Linked DNA regions of Homo sapiens: region 1 is linked to region 2. Evidence: fine-mapped expression QTL. A gene starts in region 2. The other region holds a variant in brackets. All regions are shown on one strand. Distances are from middle to middle. Region 1 holds the start of BLVRB (biliverdin reductase B). Region 2 holds the start of SHKBP1 (SH3KBP1 binding protein 1).

What was found. PIP is the estimated chance that this variant, and not a neighbour inherited with it, causes the effect.
Region 1: its variant is fine-mapped to the expression of SHKBP1 in subcutaneous fat (GTEx, PIP 0.99).

What each region holds. Positions count from the first base shown.
Region 1 is chr19:40,465,393-40,469,621 of GRCh38, forward strand. It overlaps BLVRB (biliverdin reductase B), which reads right to left and starts at 353. Exons shown (of 5, transcript NM_000713.3): 1 at 218-353. The coding sequence starts at 296. SPTBN4 (spectrin beta, non-erythrocytic 4) reads left to right here and starts at 1,609. Exons shown (of 36, transcript NM_020971.3): 1 at 1,609-1,913. RefSeq lists a silencer at 568-767. The variant C/T (reference allele first, on the strand shown) is at 2,271.
Region 2 is chr19:40,575,009-40,579,513 of GRCh38, forward strand. SHKBP1 (SH3KBP1 binding protein 1) reads left to right here and starts at 1,865. Exons shown (of 18, transcript NM_138392.4): 1 at 1,865-1,977; 2 at 2,223-2,276; 3 at 2,388-2,433; 4 at 2,549-2,622; 5 at 3,146-3,204; 6 at 3,454-3,534. The coding sequence starts at 1,892. It overlaps SPTBN4 (spectrin beta, non-erythrocytic 4), which reads left to right. Exons shown (of 36, transcript NM_020971.3): 36 at 403-1,456. The coding sequence ends at 561. RefSeq lists silencers at 1,254-1,343, 1,694-1,873, 1,894-1,963.

The DNA.
Region 1 (4,229 bases), 110 kb before region 2:
CCGGGGCCAATTCCTCTCTGGCTTGGACTCACATAAACTTGGATCTCACATCTTTCCCCATTTCTGCCCCCGTGGCCACTTGCTTTGGCCCCTGAGTCCTCATACACCTGGCTGGGGCGCTCATGGCCCCAATCAGCCTCGGCCCGACCCCATGGTGCCCCTTCCTAAAGTTCTGCCCGTCTGTCCCGTGACATGCCCCGCCCGCCCCGGCTCATGCCTGCTTGCACCGCCTGCGCCAGGGTGGTGAGCCCGGTCTGGCCAGTGGCGCCGAAGATCGCGATCTTCTTGACGGCCATCGTACGGGATCGTGGGGGTGCAAGGCCTCAGAGTCTCGGCACGCGCGGGAACCCACTGGCTGCTGGGCGGTGCTCTCTGCCCTACTCAAGCCAGGAACAACGGGGCGGAGCTGGCTCGAAGGGCCACGCCTCAGACTCTCCGCCCGCGGCTCAGGTCAAGGGGCGGGGCCTAACGCGGATGGGCGGGGCAGGCGTCAGCTTGCATTCGCTCACCGTCCAGCACCGCCCTCTCTGCGCGCCACTTAGACTGGAAGGCGGGGCCACAGAAGGCCACGCCTCCACATAGCAACAAATAGAGTGGACGGAGCCGAGATAACTTGTCACTCAGCGCCCTGCCTCCGCGCTCCACCTCCCGGAGAGGGGCGGGGCCAGGCGAGCCTCACCCACGGCCTCTCGTAGCTCACGCCCCCTCTCCCGGAGCCTGGAGCGGATCTGGGGCGCACTCTAAGCCCCAGGGCCTCCCAGAACCAGCAAGGGGAGAAAGTTAGGAGGACAGAGTGTGTGTGTGCACTTGGATGTAAGACACTGTGTCACGGCGTACCTATGCACTTATATGACCCTGTGTGACTCAGTGACCCGGAGGGCAAGCAGGACTGTGGGTGACACCTTGTGTCATCCTCTGAGTGTGATCCCGTGTTACAGTGTGACTACACGTGCGTGACACCACGTGTGGCAGGCATTGATTCTGTTCTTTTGTGACCTTGTGGTGACACCGTGGGTGACACTGCGTCAGCCTGTACGATAGGGTGTGGGACGTGTGAGGTGTGCTACATGGAAGCGTGAGACTAATTAGACTGTGACAGTGTGTGACACCACATGTCTCGTGTAAGGATGTGTGACACCGGGACCCCATTCGAGTGTGTGGCTGTGGGTGTCTGTGTTGAGCTGCTCATTGTGACCCCCTGTGACTATGATGTGTGAGGTGCGGCGGTGCAGCATGTGCGGGGCGACTGCTATGAAGGTTCGAGTGTGTAGAGTGTGTGACACTGTGGCTGTGAAGCTGTGCGTGATGTGTGGGCCTATGACACTGTTTGTGACTGCCGGGGAGTGTGCGGCTGTGTGTGACAGGTGCATTTGTGTGTGACGCCGCGTGGGCGGTGGTTACCCTATTGGATTTGTGTGGTGGTGGGTGACACCGTTCCAGTGTGGACGCCGCGTGTGACGGCGTGAGGGTGTGACCCCGTGAGACCCCACAGGAGGGAGTGACGGCGCGCAAGCGCGTGGATGCGGGGGTGAGTTTGTGCGCCGAGGCCCCCGCGAGTATGGCAGCGTGGCGAGCGTGACCCCGTGGGAGTGTGCAGCGCGTGACGCCGCCGTGCCCTCGCGAGTGCAGCCGTGCACCCCACGCCGCGGCCGGGTGTGACTGCGCGTGGGCCTCGGGCGGCGGGGCGCGGGGACCGCGGGCGGGAGGGGGTCCCGGGGGCGCGCTGAGCGCGGCGGCGGCGCGAGAGAGGGAGGCGCGGCGGCGCATGCGGATCTGGCTGAGCCGCGGGCCGGCGGGGCCGAGCTGAGCCGGGCTGGGCCGGGCCGGGCCGGGCCGGGCAGCGGACGCCGACAGGGAGGGCGGTCGGTCGCGGCGAGCAGCGGAGACAGCGACGCTGGCGGCCGCGGGCCCAGGTGAGCTGCTAGGGGGGCCGACAGCCCCTCCCCCAAGTATGTCCCCACCTGGCGAGCATCCCTCCTCCGCGCGCACGGGGCATGGCTGGAGCCCCGGGTCTCCCCGGCTGGAGGGAGGCAAAGGGTCGAGGGCAGGACGAGCCCACAACCCCCCCACCCGGTCTAGCTTCCGCGCCACGCGTGGGTCTTACCCCCAGGCCTTGTCCTTCCCAGGCCCCCTCCTTGGGCGCAGTGTCTGGACCGCAGGGAGAGAGGCGCGGCCTGGGAAGGGTTAAAGCCTCTGATGCCACCGCAGCCCAGCGCCCCACCAGCCTTTGCGGGGGGGGGGGGGTGTTGGGGGGAGGCTCGCAGGACACC[C/T]CTTCCCGGCTTCCCTATTACCTGCTCCCTTCCTTCCCATTCAATCGCGTTATGGCCAGAGCTGATCCTCGGCCTGGCCAGAGGGCTAACAGGAGTGCTAAGGGCCTCCCCATCTCTAAGTGTCTTCCACTGAAGAAAACAGCTGTAACCACCGTTTAACAGGGAGGGAAACTGAGGCACAGAAAGGCCAAGTTAAAGATACTCGGTTAAAGATACAGCAAGAATAAAGCGGAACTTGAACTCATTTCTGTCTGACTCCAGAAGAGGCAAATCGATTTGCTGAGATGTGTGAGGAAAAGATGAAGAATAATAGCAAGGAACATGTATCAAGGGCTTGCAGTGTACCAGATACCATGATCCCTGCATTAATAACTTACCTCTTCAAACACCGCTAAGAAACGGGTACGATTATCATTACTTTTTTTTTTTTTTGAGACGGAGTTTCACTCTTGTCACCCAAGTTGGAGTGTAATGGCGCGATCTTGGCTCACTGCAACCTCTGCCTCCCGACTTCAAGCAGTTCTCCTGCCTCAGCCTCCCAAGTAGCTGGGATTACGGGCATGAGCTACCATGCCTGGCTAATTTTGAATTTTTAGTAGACATGGGGTTTCACTATGTTGGTAAGGCTGGTCTCCAACTCTTGACCTCAGGTGACCCACCCACCTCCTTGGCCTCTCAAAGTGCTGGGATTATAGGCGTGAGCCACCGCCTGGCCTACCCTTTTGTGTGTGTGTGACAGAGTTTCATTCTGTCATTCAGGCTGGAGTGCAGTGAGTCAATCTCAGCTCACTGCAACCTCCATCCCCCAGGTTCAAGCGATTCTCCTGCCTCAGCCTCCCAAGTAACTGGGACTACAGACACGTGCCACCACGCCTGGCTAATTTTTGTATTTTTTTTAGTAAAGACCGGGTTTTGCCATGTTGGCCAGGCCGGTCTCGAATTCCTGGCCTCAAGTGATCCACCTACCTTGACCTCCCAAAGTGCTGAGATTATAAGCATGAGCCACCGTGCCGGGCCATCATTACTATTTTGCAGATGAACAAACTAAGGCCCAAAGAGTGGAAGTATTTCAGCCAAGGTCACACAGGTGGTAGGTAGCTGTGTGCTCACTTTCACTTTTCCATGGAAGGAGGGAAGAACAAAAATGGATTTGGGACTGGGCACAGTGGCTCACATGTGTAACCCCAGCACTTTGGGAAGTTGAAGTGGGCAAATAGCTTGAGCCCAGATGTTTGAGACCAGCCTGAGCAACATAGTGAGACCCCCTCTCTACAAAAAATACAAAAATTACCTGGTCATGGTGGAGCTTGCCTCTAGTCCCATCTACTCAGGAGGCTGAGGTGGGAGGATCGCGTGAGCACAAGAGTTGGAGGCTACAGGGAGCTATGATTGTGTCACTGCACTCTAGCCTGGGTGATAGAGCAATACCTTGTCTCAGAAAAAAAAAAAAGATTTCAATGTGTCCCCCTAAGGGACAATTTCCACTCTACTCACTCTACTGACCAAGACTTAGACCCTGCCTTCCTAGAATTCAGTGGGTTGGCAATTGTCTGGGTCTTTTGAGGACATTGATCTCCCAACTTCCTCCTTTGTTAGTCTTTTTTTTTTCCTTTTTCTTTTGAGAAGGAGTCTTACTCTGTCGCCCAGGCTAGAGTTTAGTGGCACAATCTCGGCTCACTACAACCTTCGCCTCCCGGTTTCAAGCAATTCTCCTGCCTCAGCCTCCTGAGTAGCTGGGATTACAGGCACCTGCAACCTTGCCCACCTAATTTTTGTGTTTTTAGTAGAGATGGGGTTTCACCATGTTGGCCAGGCTGGTCTTGAACTCCTGACCTCGTGATCCACCCGCCTCAGACTCCCAAAGTGCTAGGATTACAGGTGTGAGCCACCACGCCCAGCCGTTAGTCTTAGAATCAGGCCTGGGGGCCCAGAAGGTAAAGGAGATACATCTAATGTCAC
Region 2 (4,505 bases):
TGTCTCAAAAAAAAAAAAAAAAAAGTCTCTTATCATAGGGTTACTGTGAGAATTAAATTGCTCCATGTTTAATTGATACATGATAAACTGATACTTAGCACAGGGCCTAGTAAATATCAGTGCTCTAGTAGTGCCTGCCCATATTATTATCATTGTTTGTGTCATTTATCTCTGTAGTAGGAAGTATATACAATCCTATTGCATAGGTTTAAGGGAATTAATCCACTAAAGTGTTTGGAACAGAGCCTGGCACATATTGCTATGTAACTGCATCATCATCATCATCCCTTTTTAATAGATGAGAAAACTGAATTTCAGAGAGGGTAGTCTGATCTGAAATTCACCTATTATTCCAGCTTCTCTCTTCCAAATACGGCCTCTGTGCCCTGTTTCTTCCCCCAGGAGGAGATGAACGGCTGGCTGGAGGCTGTAGCTTCCTCGGTGGCGGAACACGCAGAGATCGCCCGCTGGGGCCAGACACTACCCACTACTTCATCCACAGATGAGGGCAACCCTAAGAGGGAAGGCGGAGATCGCAGGGCCAGCGGGCGCAGGAAGTGACTTCCCACCCCCAGGACCTGACACATCTCGTCTCCCCTCTTTTCCGCACTGTGGGCACAAAGACACTTTTTCTTCCGCAGGGGCGGGAGCCCCTAGTTCCAACACTGAGGACGCGTGACATGGTGGGCACCGGAAAGGAGGGGACTTCTCCTGCACCCCAAGAAGTGGTGGGGAGATTGCTGCCCCTATAGCCATATCTCGGCCCCTTCCCACTCACCACCCCCACCCCAGGTGCTGGGGGTCCCTTATTTTTATGCAATAACTGAGCTTGATGGGGGTGGGCAGGGGGCCAGTTGAGCCAAGCCCCCAGCCCCGATCTGCAGATCCTGCCCCAAGAAGCTGGGGTGGTGGGGGCAGTAATTCCTGCCCCCCTCTCTGCCCTAGGGATGGGCACGGGGGCGCTGGTGAGGTCCCCTGGACCATCCAGGGTGCTAGGGGGCAGGGAGGGGACACCCCCTCCCCGCCTTTACCTCACTTCCAATGCTGCCTTGATCTCTGTCTGGGAGGGGGGAGTGAAGGGGCCCTAGCCCCCTGCACTCCGCCGCCTCAGAGCCATGCGGTTAATTCCTGACTTAGTTTATTTTTGCAAAACGTCGATCTCCTCCTCCCCCGCCCCGCATCCGCGAAGGCTTTTAATGGGAGGGGCGTCAAAGCTCAAAACTGTTTTCCTCTCTCCTCCCCCCTCCAGTTGTAAATGCCACTTCATGAGGGGAGGGGCGAGGGGAAGCCCACCCCTGCATGCTTCTGGCTGGAGCACCTCCCTGGGGAGTCGGGGGATTGGGTTGTGGGCAGTCCCCATGGCCGCCTGGAGAAGCCGCTGGGGCCCGGGGGTGTGGGGCGGTGTGGCGGGCGCACACTGTATGTACCTATAATAAACCCTTTGGCTTTGACGGTCTATGGTCCTTTGTTTGGGTTTTCTGGGCTGCGCCCGGGAGGATTGAAAGGAGGGCTGTGGTGGCTGTAGGGGTGGGTGCGGGGTGGGGAGAGGGGCACGGGGGTACCGTGGCTGCGGAGAACATCCAGATGTACCCTTTTATGTGGACTTAATTTCGGGGTCTAAACACACGCCCCTTGACGAGAACCTAGAGGGATGGAGAATATTTCGTTATGCTTCGTAATAAACTTCCCCAAAGGAGACTCCGGGTCCGCCCCGTCAAGTTCAGGAAAGGCGGACCCCTTTAAGGAGGCGGAAAAGTTAACCGCGATGGGCAGGCGCTCTGTCCAATCGCTAGTGACTCCTGGAGTCTCTGGCCCAATGAGCAGCCTATGGAGGCGGGGTCCGGGTGCACACCCGGAAGTGGGTGCGGGCCAGCCGGCTCGCCCGGGGGCCATGGCAGCAGCGGCTACTGCAGCCGAGGGGGTCCCCAGTCGGGGGCCTCCCGGGGAAGTCATTCATCTGAATGTGGGAGGCAAGAGGTGAGTGTGGGAGACTCCTGAGGTCCCATCCTCGGGGGCGGGAAGCGGGGTGGGAGTATCCGCCTCTCCTGGGGGAATCCCTGTCCATCAAGGGTTGCTCCGCCCCCCCCCCCTTTGGAGGCGCGAGATTCTGGAAAAACGCCGGGGGAGGGGGAAGGGGAGGGAACCCTGGATCCTGCGGGAGGGGGACGCATTCCTCACCCGCTCCTCTTCATCTCTTGCGTCCGTTTACCTTCCCCGCCCAGATTCAGTACCTCTCGCCAGACTCTCACCTGGATCCCAGACTCCTTCTTCTCCAGGTGATCGGGAGAGCGAGTTTGGGGCGAGGGTAGGAGGGATGGAGAGGGCGTGGGAGACCTAATATCCACTCCCCCGGCCCGTGACGCCTGCTCGGTGTCCCTTCCCTGCAGTCTTCTGAGCGGACGCATCTCGACGCTGAAAGATGAGACCGGAGCAGTGAGTCGGACAAGAACTGAAATGGGATGGGGGGGAGGGGTTGGTAGGAAGAGGGGCAGGACCCCACTCAGTCCTGCCTTTTACCCCATCCATCCTCTGCCCCCCTTTCCCGCAGATCTTCATCGACAGGGACCCTACAGTCTTCGCCCCCATCCTCAACTTCCTGCGCACCAAAGAGTTGGATCCCAGGTTGGCATGGAAAAAGGGGAGGGAGTCCCTCACTGTCTTCAGTCCCTGAGGAGTTCTTTCACCTCCTCTGAATGTCCACGTGAGCTCCATTCTATTAGAATTCTCATTCAGAACCTTGATCACAGGCCGGGCGCGCCGGGATTGCTCACGCCTGTAATCCCAACACTTTGGGAGGCCGAGGTGGGAGGATCACTTGAGCCCAGGATTTGGAGACTAGCCTGGGCAACATAGCGAGACCCCTTCTCTAAAAAAGCAAACAGGCAAAACTTCATGAGAATCTTGATCATGTTAAAATTTTATGTCCTTCGATTTCTCCCTACACACACACACACACACACACACACACACACACACACACACACTCAACATTTCCTCCACCCATATCATCACTCCTTAGCATCTTTATTCCATCAAAACTTTCTACCCCTTGACATTCTCTGTGCAGTTTTGAAAATTACCCTCTCAGCATTCTCTGTTCACCCCCACACCTAGACCCTGACCTCTAGTCAATTCTACTACCCAGGGGTGTCCACGGTTCCAGCCTCCTCCATGAAGCCCAGTTCTATGGGCTCACTCCTCTGGGTAAGTGGGAGCCCCCAGCTATCATCCTCATTGTATAGAAAACCAACTCTGTGATGCTACCTGCCCCTCTTCCCCTTCTCTCCTGAAAGAGGGCTGGGGTAGAGGTGGGAGGACTGGTTATGGCCCTGGCCGGGTCTGTATTCGTACTGGGAGGAGTATTGGTACTCTGTGTAGAAAGAAATGGGGAGGGGGAAATGGGGTGGCCTCAGCATCTCCCTAAGTCCCAGCCTTTAAGTCCTCCTGTTGCAGTTCGTCGCCTGCAGCTTCGAGAGGAGTTGGATCGATCTTCTTGTGGAAACGTCCTCTTCAATGGTTACCTGCCGCCACCAGGTAGGCACTCCCAATGGAATGGAGGGGCGCGGAGGTGGGCCAAAGACTACATTTCCCATAAGGCTGCAGCTCTCGGGTGCCTGTGCTGTGCGTCCTGAGATACAGTGGGAGGTGTAGTTCCCTATCAGATGCTTGGGCTGATGCTTGGAAAGGAAGTTGGACACAGCATTTCCCATGAGACAATGGGCCAGCTAACTCTTGAGGCTCAGAAGGATGTCCTGGAGCCCCATGGGAGTTGTAGTCCGGGTTTGGTTTCTTTGTAGGGGGGGCTTTGGAAGACCTGGGATTCTTCGTATGGAGGGGAGAAATATTAATAGGAAGTTATTGACAGTAATGCCCATGATAGCCAGCCCACTGGCCATGGAAGGTATGCCCCAGTGGTTATTGGAACTAGGCTTTTCTGATTGGTAGAAGTAACAGAGTAGGGAAATTTCATCTACAGCTTTATTTCCCTAACTGCAGTCAGCACCTGCTACCTTCATGAAAGTTGCCAGATATAAAGATCTGTAGTAGTACTTTTCCAACTTAGTTTTATCCTGTTTTCCGAAAAACAATCATTTATTTATTTATTTATTTATTTAATTTTATGAGACAGGGTCTGGCTTTGTCACCCAGGCTGGAGTGCAGTGGTGCGATCTTGGCTCACTGCAACCTCTGCCTCTCAGATTCAAGCCATCCTTCCACCTCAGCTCTGCCACTGAGTAGCTGAGACTACAAGCACTCGCCACCATGCCCGGCTAATTAAAAAAATAATAATCATTTTAAATGCAAGCTTTATATTATAAATACAAAGTAAACATGAAAATAAAACCCAAACATAGCAGTGTTATTAAACTCTGGCCTGTAGCAGTGGCTCACACCTGTAATCCTAGCAGTTTGGAGGCCGAGACAGGTGGATTACTTGAGACCTGGAGTTTGAGACCAGCCCAGGTGACACAGCAAGACCTCATCTCTACTAAAAATAAAAAAAA